Linked DNA regions of Homo sapiens. The protein of the gene in region 4 purifies or fractionates together with the protein of the main gene of each other region. This does not show direct contact. Each region holds a gene or a part of one and is shown on either strand. Other genes may lie near its edges. The genes, in order: UBN2, MSANTD7, RRBP1, MYT1L, POLR1E, RORB and BEND3.

Evidence for each region.
Region 1: the proteins of MYT1L (region 4) and UBN2 purify together in Homo sapiens (affinity purification with mass spectrometry, with the first as the bait; one large-scale study listed by BioGRID). This does not show direct contact.
Region 2: the proteins of MYT1L (region 4) and MSANTD7 purify together in Homo sapiens (affinity purification with mass spectrometry, with the first as the bait; one large-scale study listed by BioGRID). This does not show direct contact.
Region 3: the proteins of MYT1L (region 4) and RRBP1 purify together in Homo sapiens (affinity purification with mass spectrometry, with the first as the bait; one large-scale study listed by BioGRID). This does not show direct contact.
Region 5: the proteins of MYT1L (region 4) and POLR1E purify together in Homo sapiens (affinity purification with mass spectrometry, with the first as the bait; one large-scale study listed by BioGRID). This does not show direct contact.
Region 6: the proteins of MYT1L (region 4) and RORB purify together in Homo sapiens (affinity purification with mass spectrometry, with the first as the bait; one large-scale study listed by BioGRID). This does not show direct contact.
Region 7: the proteins of MYT1L (region 4) and BEND3 purify together in Homo sapiens (affinity purification with mass spectrometry, with the first as the bait; one large-scale study listed by BioGRID). This does not show direct contact.

The regions. Positions count from the first base shown.
Region 1 is NC_000007.14:139,237,737-139,241,236, reverse strand, and holds part of UBN2 (ubinuclein-2), read right to left. Parts: intron 1-3,500.
Region 2 is NC_000010.11:14,844,403-14,847,499, reverse strand, and holds the end of MSANTD7 (zinc finger and SCAN domain containing 29), read right to left. Parts: 3' UTR 501-3,097; downstream 1-500.
Region 3 is NC_000020.11:17,675,743-17,679,242, forward strand, and holds part of RRBP1 (ribosome-binding protein 1), read right to left. Parts: intron 1-3,500. UniProt on the Homo sapiens protein: Acts as a ribosome receptor and mediates interaction between the ribosome and the endoplasmic reticulum membrane.
Region 4 is NC_000002.12:1,789,276-1,792,775, reverse strand, and holds part of MYT1L (myelin transcription factor 1-like protein), read left to right. Parts: intron 1-311; coding exon 312-455; coding exon of another isoform or gene 456-467; exon of another isoform or gene 468-768; coding exon 769-909; 3' UTR 910-1,513; coding exon of another isoform or gene 1,514-1,540; 3' UTR 1,541-3,500. UniProt on the Homo sapiens protein: Transcription factor that plays a key role in neuronal differentiation by specifically repressing expression of non-neuronal genes during neuron differentiation.
Region 5 is NC_000009.12:37,492,448-37,495,947, reverse strand, and holds part of POLR1E (DNA-directed RNA polymerase I subunit RPA49), read right to left. Parts: intron 3,292-3,500; coding exon 3,233-3,291; intron 2,390-3,232; coding exon 2,245-2,389; intron 780-2,244; coding exon 672-779; intron 59-671; coding exon 1-58. UniProt on the Homo sapiens protein: Component of RNA polymerase I (Pol I), a DNA-dependent RNA polymerase which synthesizes ribosomal RNA precursors using the four ribonucleoside triphosphates as substrates.
Region 6 is NC_000009.12:74,664,835-74,668,334, reverse strand, and holds part of RORB (nuclear receptor ROR-beta), read right to left. Parts: intron 2,848-3,500; coding exon 2,740-2,847; intron 545-2,739; coding exon 434-544; intron 1-433. UniProt on the Homo sapiens protein: Nuclear receptor that binds DNA as a monomer to ROR response elements (RORE) containing a single core motif half-site 5'-AGGTCA-3' preceded by a short A-T-rich sequence.
Region 7 is NC_000006.12:107,112,716-107,116,709, forward strand, and holds the start of BEND3 (BEN domain-containing protein 3), read right to left. Parts: upstream 2,801-3,994; 5' UTR 2,375-2,800; intron 1,718-2,374; exon of another isoform or gene 1,165-1,717; intron 1-1,164. UniProt on the Homo sapiens protein: Transcriptional repressor which associates with the NoRC (nucleolar remodeling complex) complex and plays a key role in repressing rDNA transcription.

The DNA.
Region 1 (3,500 bases), on a different chromosome or scaffold from region 4:
AGTGAGAAAAAAATCACTAAGAGAAATCTTCCAACAATTATAGGTTATCCTATGTCCTAGAAGGCTAAGATAACAAGTCTATACCCATCAAATTGAAGCATCCTACTCCTGAGTATAGAGTATAGGTGGCCTCATAAAAGGCATATATTACCTACAGACTATCTAAAAACTGAATTGGAAACCAAGATGTTTTGCCTAAACATTTTGGAGCCTTAACTGGGAATAAAGAGAGGCATGGGAGCCTCTTTTACCTGTATCCTGCCTCCTTTCTAACCATCAAGACGAATCTGGAGCCTATACGGTTGTAGAAATGTCAAAACTTGGACTTAGCTATTTAAAAAGATTTATGTACAACAACCAATTTAGTATAATCTAGGTAAAAATAGGTACTTAATAGTCATATTGACCTTTTCCCAAAAAACCATTTAGTAATTGATGCTGAATATGAACTGTCACATTACCTGAGCATAAGAACAACATAACAGGAAACAGAACATGGCCATAAAAATAGGACACAATGGAGGGGGGAACCCCATAAATTCAATGCAGGGTGCTCTTTTTACAATTTTATACTCCCTGTAATTTCTGATATCACTGATCTTCAACTGCTGCAACACCTGCCCCAAACACCAATAAAGATCATTGTAGTTTAAGAGAGAGATTTTGTGATAGCCTAGAGCTCTAGGCATATAACGCCCAGCAGGACAATGTATCTTCTCTCAGGTCACTTTTGGCCTGATGATTTTCTTAAAAGATTCCAAATAATTATTTAAAAAAAAAAATATATATATATATATATATATATATTTAGGCTGGGTACAGTGGCTCATATCTGTAAACTCAGCACTTTGGGAGGCTGAGGCAGGTGGATTGCTTAGGCTCATGAGTTTAAGACCAGCCTAGGCAACACAACAAGACCCTGTCTCTACCAAATAAATATATATATACATATACACACACACACAATACTCATAGATATAACACTTGGGCATGCTTTTTGGTTAATATACATACAATCTCTAATTAGAATGGAAATAAGACAGTAAGTCAGCAAAATAAAAATCCAGAGAAGAAATATAGCCCATTAATTTAGACTATAACAAGAGTAATATTTTATCACTGTAAACAAAATAACAAGGCTTAAATATATCTAAGTCAATTGAAACTCAATTTCACGCATCAAACAACTTCTTCAGAACGCTGATCTTTCTATGCCAGATACTATCCTAGGGTTGACTAAGAAGACTTAATGCTAACTTTAAGGTAGTGCGTCATATACTGAATCACTTTACTTATAGGATTATATATAGGAATTTTTCCATTTGCAAAGGGCAATTCTAAAATCCTTGATTTTGTAACCCACAGCAAAATAGACACTCTAGGCTGGGCGCAGTGGCTCACGCCTGTAATCCCAACATTTTGGGAGGCCAAGGCGGTGGATTACCTAAGATCAGGAGTTCGAGACCAGCCTGACCAACATGGTGAAACCCTATCTCTACTAAATACAAAAAATTAGCTGGGCATGGTGGTGCATGCCTGCAGTCCCAGCTACTTGGGAGGTTGAGGCAGGAGAACTGCTGGAACCTGGGAAGTGGAGGTTGCAGTGAGCCGAGATAGCGCCATTGCACTCCAGCCTGGGCAACAAGAGTGAAACTCTGCCTCAAAAAAAAAAAAAAAAAAAAAAAGACACTCTAATATAGTGATGGAGGGAGTAGAACTGGTAATTTAGTAATATATACTAAAATTATAAATGCATAAATCTTCCGACCTGAATCGTCTGATTCTAGGAATCTCTCCTAGAGATAAACTTGAAATTGTGTAAAATGCCATTTTACAGACTAATTTACTGCAGCACTATTAATAAGGGCAAATTTTTGAAAGCAACCTAAATCATTTGGGGACTGGTTACAGTGTGATAGTTCCATGCAATGAAACAGCATGCAGCCTTAAAAAAAAGGGAGAGAAAGCACTTTGTCCTGATATGACCCCCCCAAATATACTAAGATACAGTAAATAAAAAGCAAAGAGCTTAAGTGTGTACAATTCTATAATATGTATAAAAAGGGGGTGGGAAAGGAATAGATGTGTATGTATAGAGATGTATCTCTAGTACCACAGGAGTGTTACTTGCCTAGGAAGTGGGATTCCATGGGTGGGCAATACAATAAAAGGAAGATTTTTAATTTTTGAATTTTGAGCCACATAAGTGTACTAGTTGGTTAAAACATTAAGTGTAACCAATGTATAACTTGTATAAAAAACACAGTATTTTAGGATTTATACATGCTAGGATTTTAGGATTTATACATCCTATAGGATTTTACAATTTATACATCATGATACAATATAGTCTCAAAAGATTACACTGTAATTAAATACTACAATGCTATTCCTTCTATTTAAACACCCACCAGTCTATCCCTAAATTTATTATTATATAGTCACAGAATAGAGAACAATAGGGTCTCGGAAAAATCTGAACCTCTCAATTTATAGATAGGAAAACTGTACCCTTGGCCAGGCCCAATGGCTCACGCCTGTAATCCCAGCTCTTTGGGAGGCCAAGGTGGACAGATCAGTTGAGGTCAGGAGTTCGAGACCAGCCGGGCCAACATGGTGAAACCATCTCTACTAAAAATACAAAAATTAGCCAGGCATGGTGGTGCATGCCTGTAATCCCAGCTACTCAGGTGGCTGAGGCAGAAGAATTGCTTGAACCCAGGAGGTGGAGGTTACAGTGAGCCAAGATCACACCACTGCACTCCAGCCTGAGTGACAGAGACTCTGTCTTAGAAAAAAAGAGAGAAAAAGAAAACTGTGGCCCAAAGCTAAAAAACCTCACCAAAAGGACACAATTAGCAGATGGCAAAGTATGGCCTAGGACCTGATTCCAATTCCAATCTATTCTCATCTACTTCTTCTACCTTCAAATGGTTTCTTAATTACCACAAGGAGCCAGCACATATGGGTCAAGATCCCTGTTGTATCTTGAGGGTACAAGGCCCTCAATGACAAGGCCAATGTGAGCTGATATCCTTTCTCCTGTGGGATACTTTTCAATGCTCACAGAGGAATCAGAGGGGTAAGGTGTTGCTTCTCAACTGGGTTATGTTTTAGTAAAGTGCCAAGAGTACTCAAAGCCATAGTGTAAATGTGGGGTGAGGAGTGGGGCTTTCTACAAATTTAGTAATACTAGAAAATTTGAGAAAAATGTTAAGCAACTTAATCAGGTAATTAAAAATTGTTTTTGTATTCAAACAAACACCACTATATTGTGGCACTGAATATAAAATGTACATGAATATTTAGCATAAACCGGACACTTTCAAAGAAGTCTCATGCTGGTTCTGAGTCTGACGCAATGAGCTTAGAAGTACACACATTCACTCTCAAACTCTTAGGAGGCAGGAAGGTTTCAGAACTACTATACCAAAGGAATTAAAATAGCATTCTCGATGGTGGCGGAAAGGGAACAGAGTTAGAGCTACACAGACCTGGAC
Region 2 (3,097 bases), on a different chromosome or scaffold from region 4:
CATAACTGGCTGGCATTCAGAACTTCAATACAAAGTTTAGTATTCTTTCCATTAAACTCTTTGCTTCTTCCTTTTCCTAAACTCAGTATTTAATATTAACTATATCCCAAACACTTTAAGAATAGGAAAAATAGATAAAGTGTGCTCATAGCGGGTTTTGCACCAATATTAGAATTTCAGCATGACACTTACTAGTTCTGTTTTCTTTAGAATTTAAGTCAACCAGAACAATTTATACTGTTGTGCGTAGGTTGTCTACCACCCAGACAAGAGAATTTGCCAGGAAGGATATTTTACAGAATTTACAGAACTCTTAAGAAATGGAAAATTATTTCTCAACTGCTTTATAAAGAGGGCCGCTCTCCTCTGAAGACAGAAAGCACATATAGCTCCGAGGGCTGCAGACATGCAAGACCCTTAGCAGAGGAGAAAGCAAAGCAGAGAATGGAGGCAACAAAGGACCACAGACATCATCACAAAGTAGTGGACTGACCCACAACTACATACAAGTGAAAACTTTATTTGTCCACACCAGGATTACCGAACAGAAAAACAAAGGTGGTGAGAAGTTGGTATACATAGCACCTTATTTACATGATGGACTTGAGGAGGCAGTTAATCCTATGGTTGTGTATCACAACCTTTATTAGCAATGCCATCTTCTCTTCCTCCTCCTACTTGAATATCCCTTACGGTCAACAGCCCACGGGCTTGGCACACACCAGCACTAATGTGCTCCAGAGTCTTTCCCCTACTTGTTACATGACAGTGCCTTACATGTCTGAAAGTGCTCATACATTCATCTGTTCCTTTGATCCTCACAACACCCCTGTGAGGTAGGTAGGACAATTATGAGTTTCCCACTTTATAAATGAGGAACCTGAGTTATGGAATGCTGGAAAAGCTTTTCTAAGGGGGTTCAAGTAGTAATGGTTGGGTCTACCACATAGGCAGATTCCTGGCTTGCTTTCTTGCACACTGTCTCCCTGTATTCCAATTTCCCTCCCCTTAATATTTTTAGCCTATTTTTCTGTGTACTTATTCAAGACCTTTCCCTTGACTTTTATTCCCACATTAGGGTTACTTTACCCATTGAATTTCACAATACCACATCCAAATATTAATTCCAATGCTCTTCTTCAGCACTCCTTTCATCTCAAAGAAATCCCTGTCTTATGCACTTTGCTACCATTAATAGATTTATAGAATACAGGCCTAACTCTCCGTCAAGTACTTCTGTGTTTCCAGAAAATCTACCTACCTACCTACCTACCTATAATTGACACATATCTTTCCATATAATAGCCTAAGACAATTGAGAATGAATATAGCTGTATCCATTTCAATGCCTTAAATATATGCTCTTTTAAAGTAAAGAGTCTATATGTCTGGTGTGGCACTTAGAAGTTCATGAGCATATTAATAAATATTAATACCACAGAATGCTACCTTAAAATTGTTACCAGTATTTCAAATATACATATGCTGCTGTGACAGAAAATATTACAATTAAAATTTCGTTTTCATTTTGTCTTTTATTATGCTATTTCAAATTTTTTTAGAGCTGGAAGGTACTAGGAAAAAAAAAATCTAATACAAATCCCTCAATCCGGAGATAAAGAAATTGAGGCATGAATTGGCTGGGCACGGTGGCTCACGCCTGTAATCTCAGCACTTTGGGAGGCCGAGGCAGGTGGATCACCTGAGGTCAGGAGTTCAAGACTAGCCTGGCCAACATGGTGAAACCCCGTCTCTACTAAAAATACAAAAATGAGTTGGGCATGTTGGCATGCACCTGTAATCCCGGCTACTCGGGAGGCTGAGGTTGCAGTGAGCCAAGATTGCACCACTGCACCCCAGCCTGGGCAAAACAGTGAGACTTTTTCTCAAAAAAAAAAAAATAATAATAATAGAAAAGGGCAAGTGATTTGTCTGATGAAACAAACTGTGACAGGATTCCAATCCAGGAATTCTAACTAGATTCCAACATATTCTACCACACCAGCCGCCTCACACCTCCATCCCTGGCTTGGCAGAGCAGCTCGCTTGCCGTCTACTCATGGTTCTGGGTACGCTCCCACTGCTGCTCTGACCATTTCTCCACCTATGTCCATTTCCAGCATTTAGCTAAGCACTCGAGCCTGCAAGATAGAAAATAAAACCTCCCCCAACATGCCCACTCTTTGTTATTTTTCCAACTTCTAGATTATTGGAAAACTTTTTAAATCCTAAAGATTCCTATTTGTATTCCTAAAAGTACTAAGTAAATCACTAAAAGCTTTAAGTTAGTTTAATGACAGAGAGTAATGTCTTCCCTTCTAGAGTAAATCGGAAGTGTGGCTTATCACCTTCATCTCTCCCCAGTGTGTGTCTGGGGTGTGGAGGAGGCTCATCTGTTCACGGCTAGTGCTTAAAAGGAGTCATCTATTGCAGGCAATCTTTATCCACACCATCCTCTAGTGTTCCCAAAGTTAAAGAGGAAACAAAGCTGTTCTCTTCCACCAGATGCCATTAACTACATAAACTTCTGTCTACAACATCTGAGGAAAAGGAATCTTGGAAAGCTCCTCAAAAGGAAACGTTTCTAGGGCTTGCCCTGTATAACATACTAGACAAAAAAATAACAGAAAAGAATGAAATCAGCTAAAAAGCGGATGGGAAACTGATATAATCTGAATTGTTTCCACAATGTTCCAATGGCAACCGAAACTTAAAGATGTAATTTAGGCATATAAAGGGACCCAAATAATATGAAATGCAAAGAATTTACATATATTTAATATTTTATAAAATGGCCAGTATTTTATATTGAAGATTATCGATATAAACCGTAACACACAATGGCGGCTCCCTGGCACTTCTTATTTCCTTATATTGATAGGAGACTAAGAACCAGTAAAATGAAGGAGAGAAAGACGGTTTGACAAAACAGTGCTTACTAGTAGATATGTCAGATACACAGCAGTGGAAATGTAAGAGATTAAGGTACAAATACAGGTTGTGCTTATAGTCGTCTAATGAGCCACACAGGGATTTTAAAAATTAAGATTTCAAACTCCATGAAGCAGTCAAGTTAGACCAGCAAAGGAAAGATTCA
Region 3 (3,500 bases), on a different chromosome or scaffold from region 4:
ATGGTAGGAGTGAAGCTAGAGCGAAAGTGCCCTGAGAGGCCACTGGAGACCTTGACCAAGGAGGGTCTTGAACAGAGGAGTGACATGGTCTGCTCTGGCAACAGACTAGAAGGCAGGGGGTATAGGCAAAGGCAGGGAGCCCACCAGAGGCTAGAGAAATAACCCGGGGCAGAGGTGAGAGCAGGCTGGGCATGCTGGCTCACGCCTACAATCCTGGCACTTTGGGTGGCCAAGGCAGGAGGACTCCTTTAGCCCAGGAGTTCAAGACTAGCCTGGGCAACGTGGCAAGACACCATTTCTACAAAAAAACCTAAAAATTCACTGGGTGTGGTAGCATGCACTTGTGGTACCAGCTACCCAGGAGGCTGAGGCAGGAGGATTAACTGAGCCTGCAATGTTGTAACTGCAGTGAGCAGTGATTGCGCCACTGTACTCCAGCCTGGGTGATAGAACAAGACCCTCTCAGAAATAAAAAATCAAAAGGTAAGAGCTGTTTGGACCAGGGAGAAGGCAGAAGTGGTGAGAATGGTCACACTGGCTCTGTCTGGAAGGTAGAGCTGATGGGACCTGCTGCGTACAGGGTACAGGTATGAGACGGCGAGGAGTTAAGGATAAACCGAGGTTTGTGGCCTGAAAGGTGGAGCTAGCTGGCCTAGTTTCATTTTATAGGAGGGAGAAAACTGAAGCCCAGGGAGGAGAAGTCATGTCCAAAGTCACTCACTCACTCCAGGGATCAGAACACCCAACCAGTGCTTCTCCCACTGCTCCACACAGCAGCTCCGTGGGACAAGCTGATGACTAGTCCGGTCACACCGGACAGCCCCCAGCACCCTGAGGGACTGCCAATACCCAAGCACATAACATATATTGGGGTAGGATGCTGGGCACTGAGAGCACAGGCCCAGCTTAGAGAGGACAAACACAGTCCACGGCTGCCACACAAGAAAGTCAACCTAGTGTAGCCAGAAATTCCCATTTTCCCCCAGAGAACCCAAAAATCTAGATTTTGTTTTTGTTTTTTATTATGAGACAGAGTCTCACTCTGTCGCCTAGGCTGGAGTGTAGTATGATCTTGGCTCACTGCAACCTCCACCTTCCAGGTTCAAATGATTCTCCTGCTTCAGCCACCTGAGTAGCCAGGACTACAGGCACATGCCACCATGCCTGGCTAGTTTTTGCATTCTTTATAGAGATGGGGTTTTGCCATGTTGCCCAGGCTGGTCTCAAACTCCTGGGCTCAAGCGATCCACCCGCCTTGGCCTCCCAAAGTGCTGGGATTACAGGGATTAGCCACTGTGCCCAGCCCAAAAAATCTAGATTTTAGTGAAAAAAAAAAAAAAAATTCCACTTTTAAAAGGTGACTCAATTGCTTAATAACATGAGGTCAGTGAAACAAATTCCATGTGAAGGCCAAGTTCAGCTCACACAGGGCACCAGTTTGGAATTCCTCTCAAGACAGCCTAACAGACCTTGTTTGCTTATACCCTAACAGACCTTGTTTGCTTATACCTTGCCCAGGATAGAGAATTAAAGATTTGAATTCAAGATGGTCTTTTATTCCAACTTTTGAGTCAGCAGATGATATTCATTATCACTATAAATAGTCTGTAACTTCCAGTAGTCTTAGTGGGCCTCCTTTCTGACCAGAAAGAGATCAAGTAGCTGTCCATCATTCAGCTTCTTCCTTTAAAGTTAAACTTTGGTTTTATATTATTCTTTACAGAGTACTAATACTAAGATGAGCCCACAAGTACAACCAAGAATTCAAAAATTATTCCCCAGTACTGCCCAATGATCCTTTCGAAGTTATATGGAGGCCGGGCACGGTGGCTCATGCCTATAATCCTAGCACTTTGGGAGGCCGAGGAGGGCAGATCACCTGAGGTCAGGACTTCTAGACCAGCCTGACTAACATGGTGAAACCCCGTCTCTACTAAAAATACAAAATTAGCCGGGTGTGGTGGCGCATGCCTGTAATCCCAGCTACTTGGGAGGCTGAGGCAGAAGAATCACTTGAACCCGGGAGGTAGAAGTTGCAGTAAACCAAGATCACGCCATTGGACTCCAGCCTGGGCAACAAGAGCGAAACTTTGTCTCAAAAAAAAAGAGAAAAAAGAAAAAGAAAAAAAAGTTATATGGAGAATAACAGAGCTGTGTAAATAGTCACTGGTGTAGGAAGCAATTTATGCCACCCAAGAACACTGGAACTCCAATACTTTGGAACTGAAAAGGTTTCGGGACTGGGCAGGTATTCTAGTCTTGCCAAAAAAATCTAAGTTAGAAATCACAAAATGTTCTTGATAAGTTAAAGTTGCTGCCCATTGTTGACAGGTGGAAGACACATGTTACTGAATGCACATAAAGGACACACACGTCTGGTTTTGGGGGTGTCTGGTTGTCTGCTTCAGGAGACTCGGCCAGAATTTGTCTGCCTAAGAAAAGTCTCCTAGGAGGCCCCTGAACTAATTTTCTATATGCTAAGTGAGAGTGCCTCCTTGCCTAGGCACTGTCACTTAAAATTAAATATTTACCTTCCCTTACAAGCCATCACTTTCTACCTAATATCAATTTATTTTCTGTCTTTGTTACAAGTCACCATTTTGATGCTGAGGGCATTGGGTAAAAAATCTCTCCAGGAAAGGGCCACTATCTGTGTGGCCCCCCTCCCACTCCTTTTTCTTGGAATGCAGTTTACAATGCACACAAAGAGGCGGGACTAATGCTTTCTCAGGGTGAGATCTTATCAGGTGAAGTGTATCAACTGCCACTAGTCAACTGGTTTTGACCTACAGAATGGGCAATTTCATGTGGTTCAACATATTACCACATGATCAAGAGGAACAGGGACATGAATGTTTACAGAATACCAGCTGCCTCTACATCAGCACTGTCTAGAACTTTCTGTGATGGTGGAAACCATCTACAGCCACGCTGACCAACTTATGACTACTGAGCACCTGAAATGTGGCTAATTTGACTCAGAAATTGAATTTTTAATTTTACTTAATTTGAATTGTTTTAAACTTAAATTGCTACTTGTGGCTACTGTATTGGACAACACAGTTCTAGACAGTAGCTTTTTCAGGCAAGAACTAGGTCTCACTTGCGGTGTTTGAAGGCCCACCACACAGGAGACCCTCGGTGAAAAAAATGAAATGAAAAATACCTTCAGCACTGCCAGATTTTCAAAATGCCTCCCCACCTTCCTGCCACTGAAGCTCTTAATTTTGATCTTCACGTTCTGTGTCCTCCCTTGGGTAATTATTGCCCCAGGAAGGTGGAGGTATATAGCCAGGAGGGAACATTTGGAAGGCCGGGCCCACATCGCCTAGCAACTGGGCAACAGGAACTGGCCTGACAACCTTCTGACCAGCTGGACCTCCACATTCTCATCCACTGAATGGGTGACAACCATTCCCACCCCCTAGAACAGGGTTATTTTAAGGCCTAAATGTAAACCACAGTTGTGGAATCTGATTCTAAAAAGTGAACCTTAAAAA
Region 4 (3,500 bases):
GTCTCAGTCTCCCGAGTAGCTGGGATTACAGGCGCACGCCACCACGCCCAGCTAATTTTTGTATTTTTAGTAGAGACAGGGTTTAACCACGTTGGCCAGGCTGGTCTTGAATTCCTGACCTCAAGTGACCTGCCTGTCTTGGCCTCCCAAAATGCTGGGATTCCAGGCGTGAGCCACGGCGCCCGGCCCGAAGCCTTTCTCCTTCAGCGAGAGGCCCCTTCTTCGCACCCAGTAGACTGTGGCCCCCGGCAACGACCACGCGCTCCTAGGTCCTCCTGGTGTTACATGTCACGCACACTTGTGCGTTTCAGATTACCACGATGGAGAGCAACCTGAAGACCATCGAAGAGGAGAACAAAGTGATTGAGCAGCAGAACGAGTCTCTCCTCCACGAGCTGGCGAACCTGAGCCAGTCTCTGATCCACAGCCTGGCTAACATCCAGCTGCCGCACATGGTAAGTGACTGAGCACGCAAGGCAGGAATGTGGAGTCCTCCACAGCGCACAGCCTAAAGTAGATGCCGTTTTTATCGTTATTTTCATGGTTCTTCAGCCTTTGGCAAATGTTTGTGGTTACCACCCCGAAACCATACCATTAACTGCTAGAAACATGGGCGGGGCTGACCCCAGAAACTTAAGTGTGCTCTGAGCCGGCCTTTGAAATAGTATAAAACCAGGGGCACTATGCTATGATACTATTTTATGCTTTTGTAAATATACTATTAAGAAAATAAAAGTTGTATATGAACTACTATTTAATATCTCGTAGGATCCAATCAATGAACAAAATTTTGATGCTTACGTGACTACTTTGACGGAAATGTATACAAATCAAGATCGTTATCAGAGTCCAGAAAATAAAGCCCTACTGGAAAATATAAAGCAGGCTGTGAGAGGAATTCAGGTCTGAACAGCTGCTGTAGTGATGAAACTCTTGCTTAAAAAGGATGCCTCTTGTTTTTTGCTGCTGTAACTTACCAGAAAGTGTTCTATATTTATTTCTGTTTGAATTTGAAACAGTGTTATGCTTACAAGACTTCATAATGATTTTATGTCTTGCTTTAAAGATAGTACCTGCAGAATAGTTTTTGAATACACCCACATTTTGTACGTTTCCATGTAAGCTGACATAGTGTTCTGCCATGTAATGTTTATAGCTGCTGATGTATGCACATTTGGGGGTATATCTATTTCTGAAGAGGTAAGCTGATCAAAATAAATAGAGTGTAAATTCTTTTTAATGCTTTAGTGATTAAATGTTTTAGTATTTTGAACTGAAATGGACACACAAACACACACACGCACACACAGACCCACAGCTTTGAATGATCATGTTGTGGCTGAGCAGCCGCTTTTTAGACGTTATCATTTTGCCTCATGTTGGAGGACTTTATGGAATTTAAGAAATACATTTTGTGTGCATATTGTTTCATAGCAAGAATTCGTTGCAAAAATGCTTTATTTTTGAACAATGCTTGGAAATATTATGTGACTTTTTTGTTTGTTTGTTTTAGGAGGATGGTGTATGGTGGGGGCAATAAATGAGGTTTTTTGCATTCCAAGGAAATGGCATATGGATTAACTGTAAGAAATGAAATAAGTAATTTATTGTAAGACAACATCAAGCCATGGAAACTTGGCAGAAGATTCAAAGCAGCTTAAACAGCACTTTTAAATTAACTCCTAAGCGTTACATGGTTGTGACTATGGAAACTCCAGTTAAGACAGGATCTTATCAGAGGTGGACAACGTGAAGATTTCCTTTTCCATTTTCAATAAACTTTGGAACAACCTTCTCGTATCTCCCCTAGAGTTTCGTGCCCCTCTGAACTGTCTGTTATTGCAATGTAGTTTATCAACAGAATTTGTGTGTTTTCGATTTAAGCTAAAAGATAATTTAAGAACATTTATTTCCCCTTTTCACTTTAAAAAATTATGATTATTCCTATTATTGTTATGAACCTTCTTATTTTACATTTGAGGGATAAAGGCAAATGATTTGTGAGTCTTCTAGTTACTGGACCGAGTTTTCTGCTGGATCTGGTGGGAAGGCAGCTCGGTAAAGTTTCCCTCCTGCTCCCCCCGCCCGACTTTGACTCTGAATCAGCATTTGGTCCTATTCAGAGGACTCTTACCACGACGTTTCTGTTCTACACTTGGGTGGAGACCAGTTGACCATAGAGCATTTGCAGAGCCTCATTGTTTGATTTCTTGTGACTATTCTAAGAATGAATGCAATCAGATTTTAAAAGTAACTAAATATACTTCAGCACTTTTTTGCTTTAAACTAGATCATCTTAGACTTGTTTATACCTTCCAGATTTGATTGTTTTACTCCCAATGACTGCACTATATGTATGCATAAGACCACTTTTGAGCGCTGTGTTCCCCCTTCTGAGTAGTCCTTTGACGACGTGTTGTGTTTTCTGATGTTGACTTGAGTTCCATTTAGTAGCATCTCTTCCTTCCATGTCTTGATGTTATGCAGGAAGTACAGACGTACTTTAAATTTTTGTTATGAAATAAAAAAAAGATGGGTTTTGTAAAAATAAAAAAAAAATATTTTTAGCAGAACAGGACTTACAGGGTCATTGTCCCCACAATGTGCCAGTCGACTATTTGCACTTACCTTGTCCTATATATCCGTACGGAGGTGTGCAATTCCTCGTGTCAGTAGCCTTGTGACACTGAACCTGGATGGATTATAGAGGAGCCCTCACGGCTGATCAATAATGTTGCAAAGGGAGACTACAGGGATCTCACGACGAATATTCTGATACAATACTCAACCTCGGTATATATATATGTGTATAAATATATGTATATCCCAGCGGCACTTTATACTGTTCACTGTACAAAAGCTTACAGTTTTCCACAAGGACTTTAATAACTAGCTGGGAAAAGACGATGTAATTATTTCGGGGCTCTGCGGAACCTTCTCTGTACAGCGCCCCCTTTCTGTTGTGCTATTGGTTGCAGCTGCCATGCTCAGAATGCGTTTTGAGAGCTGAAGCAAGGTGCTTGCAGTCACCTGAGGCCGTCCGTGTGGCCCAGGGCCCCAGCTGCCTTTAGGGCCCCCATTGTTCATAACAGCATATGCATTTCCCCACCGCGTTGTGTCTGCAGCTTCTTTGCCAATATAGTAATGCTTTTAGTAGAGTACTAGATAGTATCAGTTTTGGATTCTTATTGTTATCACCTATGTACAATGGAAAGGGATTTTAAGCACAAACCTGCTGCTCATCTAACGTTGGTACATAATCTCAAATCAAAAGTTATCTGTGACTATTATATAGGGATCACAAAAGTGTCACATATTAGAATGCTGACCTTTCATATGGATTATTGTGAGTCATCAGAGTTTATTATAACTTATTGTTCATATTCATTTCTAAGTTAATTTAAGTAATCATTTATTAAGACAGAATTTTGTATAAACTATTTATTGTGCTCTCTGTGGAACTGAAGTTTGATTTATTTTTGTACTACACGGCATGGGTT
Region 5 (3,500 bases), on a different chromosome or scaffold from region 4:
ACGTTCCTGAAAGCTTCAGATGGGCTCTGAAGAGCTTCATACTCCGCAGGGGAAAGAACTAGTTACAGGTCAAGAATATAATCCAACCAAAATAGAAACATCCAACTAGCTAGGTCATCTCATAGCAGTGGCATTTCACAGACAGGGAAACAGGCTCAGAGAGCCAAAGATCACACAGGGCAGATCACATAGGGGCAGAGCTTGGTGACTCAGTTCTCCGACTCCCAGCCCAGAGCCCATTCCCTGCCCAGGCTTTTCTGCTTTTTCTCATCACAAAGCCACTGCAGGCATTTTCCTTCTGACCGGACCCCTTGGGTGGTGAAATTCTAAGCTCCAACCCTTCCTTCAACAAAAGTGGTCTGCCCTAGACTTTGGGCATTTGGCTGGTTCAACTCTTATTTTGACTCTCCATGGAGAGTGAGCCCCACAGGTCTAAGCTGTGGGCATTTGGCATTTTGCTGAGGAATGGATTTGAATCCCAGGGGCCGGTCCCTCAGCTAGTGAGGAAGCCAAGTTAACCTCCTGGCAAGAGCACTGAGCAACTGCAAAGGTTTGGATGGAGCTCTTGTGAATGTCACAGAACACAGACACCCTCAGAGAACCTGACTGCACACACGTGCAAACATCTCAACTTGTGAAATAAGGCAGCTTTTCTACTGCAAGAAGGATACGATCTTCAAATTTATACACGTCTTCAGGCTTGGCTGCATCATCATAGCAGGGAGGAAGGTAGAGGGAGTCATCTTGCAAGTCATTGTGGATAGCATCGCTGACCAGAGCTTTTCAATAAAGAAACAATCCATGTATCACCCTGTTTGTTTCCAGTTCCCCAACATTCTTTTCAGTCTGTGCACTTCAGACCACCAATGGTCCAGAAACCCCAAGTCTAAATGCTTCTGCCAAAGTGACCTCGCCTCCCCATCAGGCTGACTGCTTCAGGACTGCCATGTTCACTCATGAACAAACACAAGCTAGGCACTGGAGAAGGTGGAGGTGACAAGATTCCCCTCAGGTAACTTACAATAGAGTTGGGATTGACAGCTGTGCTAATACATAAACATTTACAATATAAAATGAGAGAAACTAAAAGTGAGGGACGTCCAAAATAGCCTTTAATGGCTTAACTTCTAGAAAAACTTGCCACACATTGTAGGTGGAACAAAACTTTCAGAATATAACACTGTAACTGCCCCACAAGAATAACTCCGCAGCCAGGTGTGGTGGCTCACACCTGTAACCTCAACATTTTGGAAGGCCAAGGCGGGAGGATGGCTTGAGCCCAGAAGTTTGAGACCAGCCCAGGCAACATGGCAAGACCCTGTCTCTCCAAAAAACTAAAAAAATTAGCTGAGCATGGTGGCACACATCTGTGATCCCAGCCACTTGGGAGGCTGAAGTAGGAGGATCACTTGAGCCCAGGAGGTTATGGCTGCAGTGAGCCATGTCTGCACCACTGCACTCTAGTCTGGGTGATAGAGCAAGACCCCATCTCCAATCAATCAATAAATAAATTTGTGAAAGTGTTGAAATCTATATAATCATAGGGTATGGAAAGATTTTCCAAAAATTACTAGAATTTCATTCTTAATAGAAAAACTGCTCTGCCCAGGGCACAGTGGTGTGCGCCTATAATCCTAGCTACCTGGGAGGCTGAGGCGGGAGGACTGCTTGAAGCCAAGGGTTCAAGATCAGCCTGGGCAACATAGCAAGACCTCATCTCCAAAATCGGTAAAAAGAAAAGCTACTCTTACACAAACTTGCTCTTATGTTCTTATAATGTATTTGAACAATAAATACATTTTAAAATAATACAATTAAATACTCCAGCTGCTGAATACCGGAAACAGAGCCACTGATCCCAAAGTGAAATGCCACCTCTGGAGGCTCATTTCCATCAACACATCAGCCTTTTTGACCAAAGCTTCCCTGCAACGCACAAGGAGAGACCTGAGGCCTTCTCCCTCCTCTGTGCCCTGCAGGCCATAACCCCAGCACCATAAGCACGGCAGGCATGTATCCATTCCATGCCTGTCCCTGTACTTGACTGTGGATCACTAGAAGACAAAGCCATGTCGGATGTTTCTTACTACTTCCAGAACCTGTCCGTGAGAAGGCCTTCAGCAAGAGGCTGAAAGGAATCCAGCCCTAGCTCCCAGCATTCCATGTGTGGGTGGGTAAAAGATCTCAAGAGAAGAGAAAGCTGTCATTATGGGCAGACTCTTAGCCCAAGTTCCAACTTCTTACCAGTCACACCCTTCGTATCAATGATAGTCTCTGCAGCTTTAGCCACTGCACGATTCAAAGATTCATTGCCAACTCTGTTCATTCTCCTGGTGTTCAGAGCTCGCTTCTGTTTGGTGGTACCAAAGGCTTCAATACAAGAATCCATCTGTTTATGAGATAAACCTGGTTACTGGGGACAGGACAGGTAGGTGCTGCCCCTCCTAGCTGTGTCACTATGGGGATACTCTCAGCATCCCAGAGTGATCACTACCTCACCTGTGAATAAGGCTGAATCGCACCTATTTACCTCACAGGACTGCTGTAAGCACCAAATGATATTAACAGATTGATCAATCAACAGCATCTCCATCAGTAAGATATAAAGACTTGACTAGGATTAGGGCTGGCAAATCTGTAGCACATGGCTTACCATTCTCCCATCCTATGCCCGTAACAGACAGGAATAGTAGAATGGTAATTCTCCCATCTTACACCCGTAACAGACAGGGCTAATAGATCACTGACTCCTTCCCCCTGAAGCAAAAAGTAGCCTCACAACCCTTCTCAATACAGTGCTCCACACAGCACCAAAGATTCAATCAGTTTGTCATCTTGGGGTGAGATGACCTTTGTAGGGACCTTCTACATTGAAAATCCCCAAGTTTACTTTGTTTTAACGTGAATGTTTTCAGGCTACAACCAATATATTCTAAAACTTGGACTAAATCCTAAAAACAAGCATTATGCTACACTTGTATCAGCCCAGAGAACCGACTCCAAACATTGGCACAGAGCTGTGTTCAGCTGCCCCAGATGGGAGCCAGACTGTTCTCTGTGGGACCAAGGAGGCTTCTGCAGGTACAAACTAATTGTCCAGAGAAACAGACTGAATGAGCGGGGAGCAGCCAGGGAGACCCTTGAGTTCAACAAGCTCATTTCACTGATGGAGAAACCCGAGGTGTAGAAGGAACTTGCTTAAGGTCCCACATCTTAATTCTATCACACTCACCTTTTCTCTGTAAGTTTTGGTCTGACTCTCTAGCGCCAGTTCACTCTCAACTGATACATCTATCAAAACACACAAAAACAGAGAGAAAGAAAAGTCAATTGGGAGGCCTACAAATAGTAATAGTGTTTAATATTCATTTGTCTATCTAAGAATAATAGATTTCTTTACTATAGGACTTCCCTGAGCCTAACATGAGTGTATACTGTGAATATTTAATATGCAGCTTTAGTATACAGTTAAAGAACTTGGAAAATAAATTAGCCAAATC
Region 6 (3,500 bases), on a different chromosome or scaffold from region 4:
TTAAAGAGTAGAAAGTGTTCCTTTTACTTATGTAGGTCCCCATTCTGGAGCTTTCATTTAGGTACATTTCTACTGTGTCTCATCCAACTGGACATTTATTTTCTATGTACTTTATTCTTAAAGTCAAAATAGAACTTGGCTGTAACTCAGGCCACTATTTGTCTTCCTTTATTTGCTAAGGAATGATTCTGCGTATCTGAATCTGGAATAACCCCTAACCTATGCTCTACTCTTGCTTTCGGGCCAAAATTGGTCATTTTAATAAACTTGAGGCTACTTCCCTTTTCACTGTCCAAAAATATCAAAAACTTGGTAAAGAAAATATAGCTCTGTTAAAGTTTCTCCTGAACACTTTGGCTTAGGCAGGTGTCATCAGTGTTAAAAATAGTAAAACAAGTTTTTTAAAAAGGTAAGAGAACTGAGACTGCCCTACCTGGAGATATCAGAACAGCAGATGAGAACAAAGCGATCTCCTCCTCGGTCAGCTGCAAGGAACACAAATTCTTTGCAAAGTCAAATGCTTCATTCACTAGGTCATCAGAACCTATAAAGGAAGAAGAAAAATGGAATAAAAATACTTGAACTTGAAATGGGGCAAGAGTAAGAAAAATCTCATAATCAATAAGCTATCCAAGGAGGTGCATACTAGACTTCTAGAAAAGATATTTTTTTAAGTTTCTAATTATAAAAAGTGATTTGATACTAATCAAAGAATGAGAAAATTGGGCAACATCTTGGCCAGGCAATCCAAGTTAACATTACCTACCAATGGCAAGCAAGTAGACTTGGTGTGTGAGTGGTGTCACATCTGTCTGGCAATCCATAATATGATTACATCCTTATAAATTTGAAATGATTTCACATTAAAGAATATAAAATAAGTGATTTGGGGATCCTTTACAATAGAGATAGTATTCATAGAAAACCTAAAACATTACATACAGGGGCTGAGGATTGTCAGTCTTCGTAACACTTGAAGCTAGCAATGTAGGGTATTCTGGACTTTTAAACTGAGACGTTAGAAATATCTAATGGAACAGAGATGAGATGCACTTCAGTTTCGCAATTTCCTTGGAAATTTCACTGAGGAGCTAGAGTTTATTTATTATTACCTTCTAATGAATGACTCACAGGTCAGTTGCTTAGCTGTTGCGTATTTTGGCAAAATAATGTTGCATCTCTACACTGATCCCTGGTGAATGTTTATTTGATGAAGCTGGAAATATACTGAGGTTGCTTGCCAAGGCTTTTCCTCCTTTCTTGAAAATCTAGCCTTGGAGATGACATGGATGTGTATCAACTGTAGAAGGGAAACATTGCCAGCCCCGATGGACTTGTTGTTGGCTGCCATATCAACTAACAGCACAAGAGGTGAAAGGGCAGTGGCCTTCTTTGGTGTCCATGGGCAGGATATGGAACAAATGGCACTATCAATCGTTAAAACCTTTCCTGGCATCAGCCCATCTTTGCTAATGTTCTTCCTACCATGCCATGCACTGATGACTGGATGTGATGATATATAACACTTCCAAACAAAGACTGACTCTGTTAGTGCCTTCCCACAGGAATGGTCTGGGATCACTGTGGACAGGTTGGCATGAACTCTGTGCTCCCAGAACTTTGTGAATTAACTTCTGTGGGTGAGAAACAAGTAGAGGAGCTCCTCATTTAATTAAGTATCTTAACTCATGATGATAAATTGACATAAGAAACGCAAGAGGTCACCACCATGGATGACCAGGGGTCTATGCAATATGCAATAAAGTTGAAAAAAAAAAGCTGATTTCACAAAGAATGATCTATAATTCAGCCCAGCTCTTTTACTCTTTTAGCATCAGCCTCCGGTTATTTCTTATTTCTTTCCTTTTTTTTTTTTAACAGGGTCTCGCTTTGTCACCCAGGCTGTAGTGCAGTGGTGTGAAGATGACTCACTGTAGCCTCAATCTCCCAGGGTCAAGCAATCTTCCTGCCTCAGCCTCCCAAGTAGCTGGGACTACAGGTGTGTGTCACCATGCCCAGCTAATTTTATTTATTTATTTTATTTATTTGAGATGGAGTCTTGCTCTGTTGCCCAAGCTGGAGTGCAGTGGAACTATCTCAGCTCACTGCAACCTCCACCTCCCACATTCAAGCGATTCTCTTGCCTCAGCCTCCTGAGTAGCTGGGATTACAGGCGTCAGCCACCATGCGTGGCTAATTTTTGTATTTTTGCAAGAGACTGGCTTTCACCATGTTGGCCAGGCTGGTCTAGAACTCCTGACCTCAAGAGATCCACCTGCCTCAGCCTCCCAAAGTGCTGGGATTACAGGCATGAGCCACCACACCTGGTGATGCCCAGCTAATTTTTGTACTTTTTGTAGAGATGGGGTTTGGCCATGTTGCCCATGCTGGTCTTGAACTCTGGGGCTCAAGTGATCTGCGCCCCTTGGCCTCCCAAAGTTCTAGGATTATACGCATGAGCCACCACGCTGGGCCTCCATTTATTTCTGAATGAACGATGTCTCAATAGGGTTGTTCTCAGGAGGGTCCTCAGTTCTCTCTTTCTTTTGTATTGGAGGCCACAGTTACAAGATCAGGAGAGGCTTGCCTGAATTAGAAGCTCACCTGGTCCATCGCTTATCGAATAATGAGATACTGGTTCACATCAAAGAATCAAGGCATTTCATTTACCAATTTCAATCTAAGTGGAGAAACTGATGGTGGCTAATAAAATTGTGTCCTCATCAAAGGGAAACTTACCTAAGGCTTTGAACATTTGCATTCCTCCATATTTTCCTTCAAACAGAACAGTGTTGTTTAATGGGTTGAAGGCACGGCACATTCTCACTAAAACCACTTCCAAGCAACCTATGAGTAAAAAATAAAAATAAAAATAAAATAAAAATACACATATATATCCAATAATAAAGAAATTATTACTGCATATAGGTAAGAGACTTTCAAGAACTTTAAAACACACAGAGAGACACATACACACACACACAGGCACACACATACAGAAATCCCTTAAGTTCCTTCCCCTAAAATAACTATTAGGTTGGTGCAAAAATAATTGCAGTTTTTGCCATTGAAAGTATTGGCAAAAACCTAATATATTTGCACCAATTTAATATATTAGAAATAAAGTTTTCTTGATACTTATATGAGGAATTAAGGAGAAAATATATTTTACAGGTGGCTAAGCTGGACATTACTTTTTGAAAATACATTTTTCTCTATTTTTCCACTAATATTAAAGCTAGTTTTGATTCCTGAATTCACAATTGAGGAAATGAGGGCAGAAATTTTGTCTGCAGTGATAGGCAGCCATGATTACTGTATTCACTCTTGCATCTCCAGGACCAAGAAAAGTTTCTGGCACATAGTAGGTGCTAAGCAAATATTTATTGAATGAATTTGTTTACTACCACTGTTTTTCCCTTTGAGCATTATTAACATCCTGAGGAAATACTGCTGCATAGCTTCCCATGTTTTGGAGAAATGGGCTTTTGCCCCATAGT
Region 7 (3,994 bases), on a different chromosome or scaffold from region 4:
GGTGGCGCGCGCCTATAATCCCAGTTACTTGGGAGGCTGAGGCAGGAGAATCACTTGAACCCAGGAGGCAGAGGTTGCGGTGAGCCAAGATCAGACCATTGCAATCCAGCCTGGGCAACAAGAGCAAAACTCTGTCTCAAGAAAAAAAAAAAAAAAAGAAAGGCTGGGCGCGGTGGCTCACGCCTGTAATCCCAACATTTTGGGAGGCCAAGGTGAGCGGATCATGAGGTCAGGAGATTGAGACCATCCTGGCTAACACGGTGAAAGCCCGTCTCTATTAAAAATACAAAAAATTAGCCGGGAGTGGTGGCACGCGCCTGTAGTCCCAGCTACTCGGGAGGCTGTGGCAGGAAAATCCCTTGAACCTGGGAGGCGGAAGTTGCAGCGAGAAGAGATCACGCCACTGCACTACAGCCTGGTGATAGAGCGAGACTCTGTCTAAAAAAAAAAAGCACGGTGGCTCATGCCTGTGATCCCAACACTTTGGGAGGCCAGGCAGGCAGATCACCTGAGGTCCGGAAACCAGCCTGGGCAACATGGTGAAACTCCGTCTCTACTACAAATACAAACATTAGCAAGGCATGGTGGCACATGGACTGTAATCCCAGCTACTCCGTGAGGCTGAGGCAGGAAAATCGCTTGAACCCGGGAGGCAGACGTTGCAGTGAGCAGAGATCAAGCCACTGCACTCCAGCCCGGGTGACAGAGCGAGACTCCGTCTCAAAAAAAAAAAAAAAACAAAAAAAAAACTCATGTTCCATGACAGGAGGTTGATGTGACAGATTTCAAGGGCCACACAGACACCAGCTAACCCAGCAGCAGCAACTGGCGCTCTGGCTCCATCTTTCCTCTAGAATCCAAGAGGCTCTCTCCATTCATTTAGGAAATACGCACTGAACGCCTACTAAGTTATGAGACACCGGGTTAGAGGCTGGGGATGTGAAACTGTGAGGGAGATAAAAAATCTTGCCCAAGTCCCAGTACCGAGGAAAGCTTGACAGGCTCTTGTATGGTAGTATAAAGCCAATATCTAGGGATGAATGGTTTAAAAAAAAAAGAGAGAAAAACGGACTGCAAGGGTGGAAGTGGGGAGCGGGTAACAAGAGAAAGTCCTCCATCCCAGCCGTTTATATACCTGGCTACCTGAAGGACTCAGTTCCTTACCTCAGTTTCCTGCAACCGTAGCTTTCTGGCACTATGCCACGCTGCCCTGTGGCATGTTTACTATTTGTATTCAACCATTCAAAAGTTACTTTAAGGAGATGAACTGCACATTTCCAACTCTAGTGAGTAACCTTGTTCCTCCCGGCACTCTTGTCGAGTTAGCGTTTACGTGCAGAATTCTTCCAGAAAGACCACCTGAGCAATCAATAAAACTTTTATCTCTGTAAAAACACCTTGTTTAAAATAGCTACATAGGGAGACGTAGGTAAACAAGCACACAAGGGCCTCCAAATCGGTGGTGCACAGCTCACGGATGAGGCAAGGGCAAAGCATGCGTGGGAAATCACGTTTATCATAGAGAAGGAAAGGAGCGCTCACGAGGAGCGGCGAGCGCCCCAGGCTTCAGCTTTGCGGCCGGCCGGCCAGGCCTCGCGCCAGCCCGGGTGCACACCCAAGGCGCCGGGCCCGCCTCCAGCTCCTGGGCAGCGGGAACCGCGAACCGCCGTGGAACGGCCGGGAAGGGAGCGCTGCGCCCCCTGGCGGCGGGGCCCATCCCTCTCCGCTCCCGGCCGCCGCCGCCGCGGGCCGGCCTCGCTCCATTTGCAGCCTCCGGAGGCTTCGTTCCTCCGAGCGGCTGCTCCCCCGGCCTCCCGCTCGCCGCCCGGCATCTCCCTCCAGTCCCCGCCCCCTGCTCCCGCTCCGACACCCCCTTCCACACGCCGAGCAGTGCCCCGCCAAAGCCCCGCCGAGCGCGAGCGCCAAGCCGCCGCGAGTACGGCAGAGCCTTCCGGCCGCCCCGGCCGCTCCATCGCGGCGCCCGGCGGGGGTGCGGGGCCGGCGCGCGGCGCGAGTGGGGCGGGCGGCGGCGGCGGCGCGGACGGTTCCACCGCGCGAACCCCCCGCCCCCGCGCGGCGCGCGTGCTCCCCAGAACGCCATGGAGCCGCCGCGTTCCGAGCGGGCACAAAGGGGCGCGCAGCACAATGGGCGCGGCGAGCCCGTGGGCGCCCGGCGCCCGCTCCGGTCGCTCGGCCCGCGCGGGGGTGGGCGCTACTACCGGCGGGCGCGCTCGGAGCAGCCCCCCTCCGCGTCCCCTCCCCTGCTCCCGCCCCCACCCCGGCATGGATGTTGCAGCCACTCTACCGGCCGCTCGCCCCGGAGCCGCCAACGCTGCCGCCGCCGCGCGGCCGGCTTGATCCGCCCCGCACTTACCTGGGACGCGAGTTCTGTACTTTGCCGGGCGGGCCCGCGCCGAGTTTGGGCGCCACGTGGGGGGGAGGGCGCGGGGCCGGGGAGTGGGGGCCGCGCGCGGAGGGCCTGGCCAGGGCGGCCCGGGGAGGCGCTGGGGGCGGCGGGCGGGCGAGCGCCGTGTATTTTCCCCTCTCTTTGTGTGTGTCCGTGCGCTGCGCTCTCGCGTGACGTGACGGGACTCCGTGTGTCATTTCCGCACAAGGACACAGGAGCCCCCGCTGCAGTGGAACCACAACCCCTCCGCCCCCACCCCCGGCCCGCCCCTCCCCCTCAGCGGGGCACACGCGGGACCGGCGGCGGCGGCGCTCGGGCGTGAACGGCCGCGGCGGGGAGCTCGGGCGCGCACTCCCGGGACCCAGGCGGCCCGGCGCGCTCGGCCAGCGCAGTGGCTCCACGTGGGCCCGCGCTGGCTGCCCGGGGCGGGGGCGGCGGCCGCGCACCCACGGCGCGCCGGGCAGGCGCCGCGAACAATGTCCCCTGTACCCCATGTGTCCTCCCACCGCGAGTTCGTCCTCGGAAACGTGGTTTCTCAGACCCGAGAGTTTGGCCCCAAACGGCTTTTTCTACTTTTTTGCCCCTTGCGGGACGGCGACTGTGCGGAGCTTGTCCCGCCTCGCGCCCACGCCTCTCCCGCATTTTTGGCCTTTGGGCCGCAGCCCAGGCCCCCGGGGCCGGTCTTCCCGCGCCGCCACCGGCACAAAGACCTTGGGGCGCGAGGGCCCGGGTGGCTCCTGCGGCCCCGCGGGGCGGCATGGAGTCCGGCGGGACCCGGGAGAGCGACCCTGGCGCTGGGAAAAGCTGGCTCTGGCCACTCCCCCTGCACGGTGGCCGCCCTCTGTTGTGAGCCTCAGAGCTAAAATCTGCTCTTGCAACCCGAAGTTCTGGGGTGTGAGGCTGCGGAGCGAGAGCTTCGGAAGCGCCCGCGCTCACAGACACACACCCCACAAACACAAACCCACGGGCTGTCTGCGCCGAGCGCCTAAAATAGAAAAACACGAGTCACCAACTCAATAAAGGCTGATTCTGTCTACTCCTAACTCTTGGACTGTAGATTCCCAGTTGATAAATACGAAATCTACCCCTCGGGTATTTTCTCAAGTCTCAGTGGCTGGGTAGGGGGAGGGGGAGGTGCTGGGTGAGAGTCAGGGAAGCCCAATTCAACAGTTTAGCCACGTTTGTATTTTAGGCAAACAATGAGAATGTAAATTTAAGAAAAATCCTTTAATTTGCCGATCAAAGAAAGTATAAAAAGAAAAATGCAAATGATCCCATCTGCTGCTCACAGCTGACTGGCTGCAAGGGAGGACCATGTGGCACGGCCCTGCGCGGTCAGTGAATAGGTAGAATAGATTTTTAAAAGAAGGCATATGTTGGCTCCTTGCTGCCCAGTCGCGGCGAGGGTTTGAATTAACGTATAGTTTGGGTTTACCGTACCCTCCTTCAGACCACTCCAATTGGGAATTTAGTAATTATGCAAGTTCCCCCCCTTCGGGCTTGAAATCAAAAGGCACAGGGTTAAGTTTGAGGAACTACGTGGAACATTCTCGAGCTGTATTTGGATTACTGGTTTAGTGAAGTCAG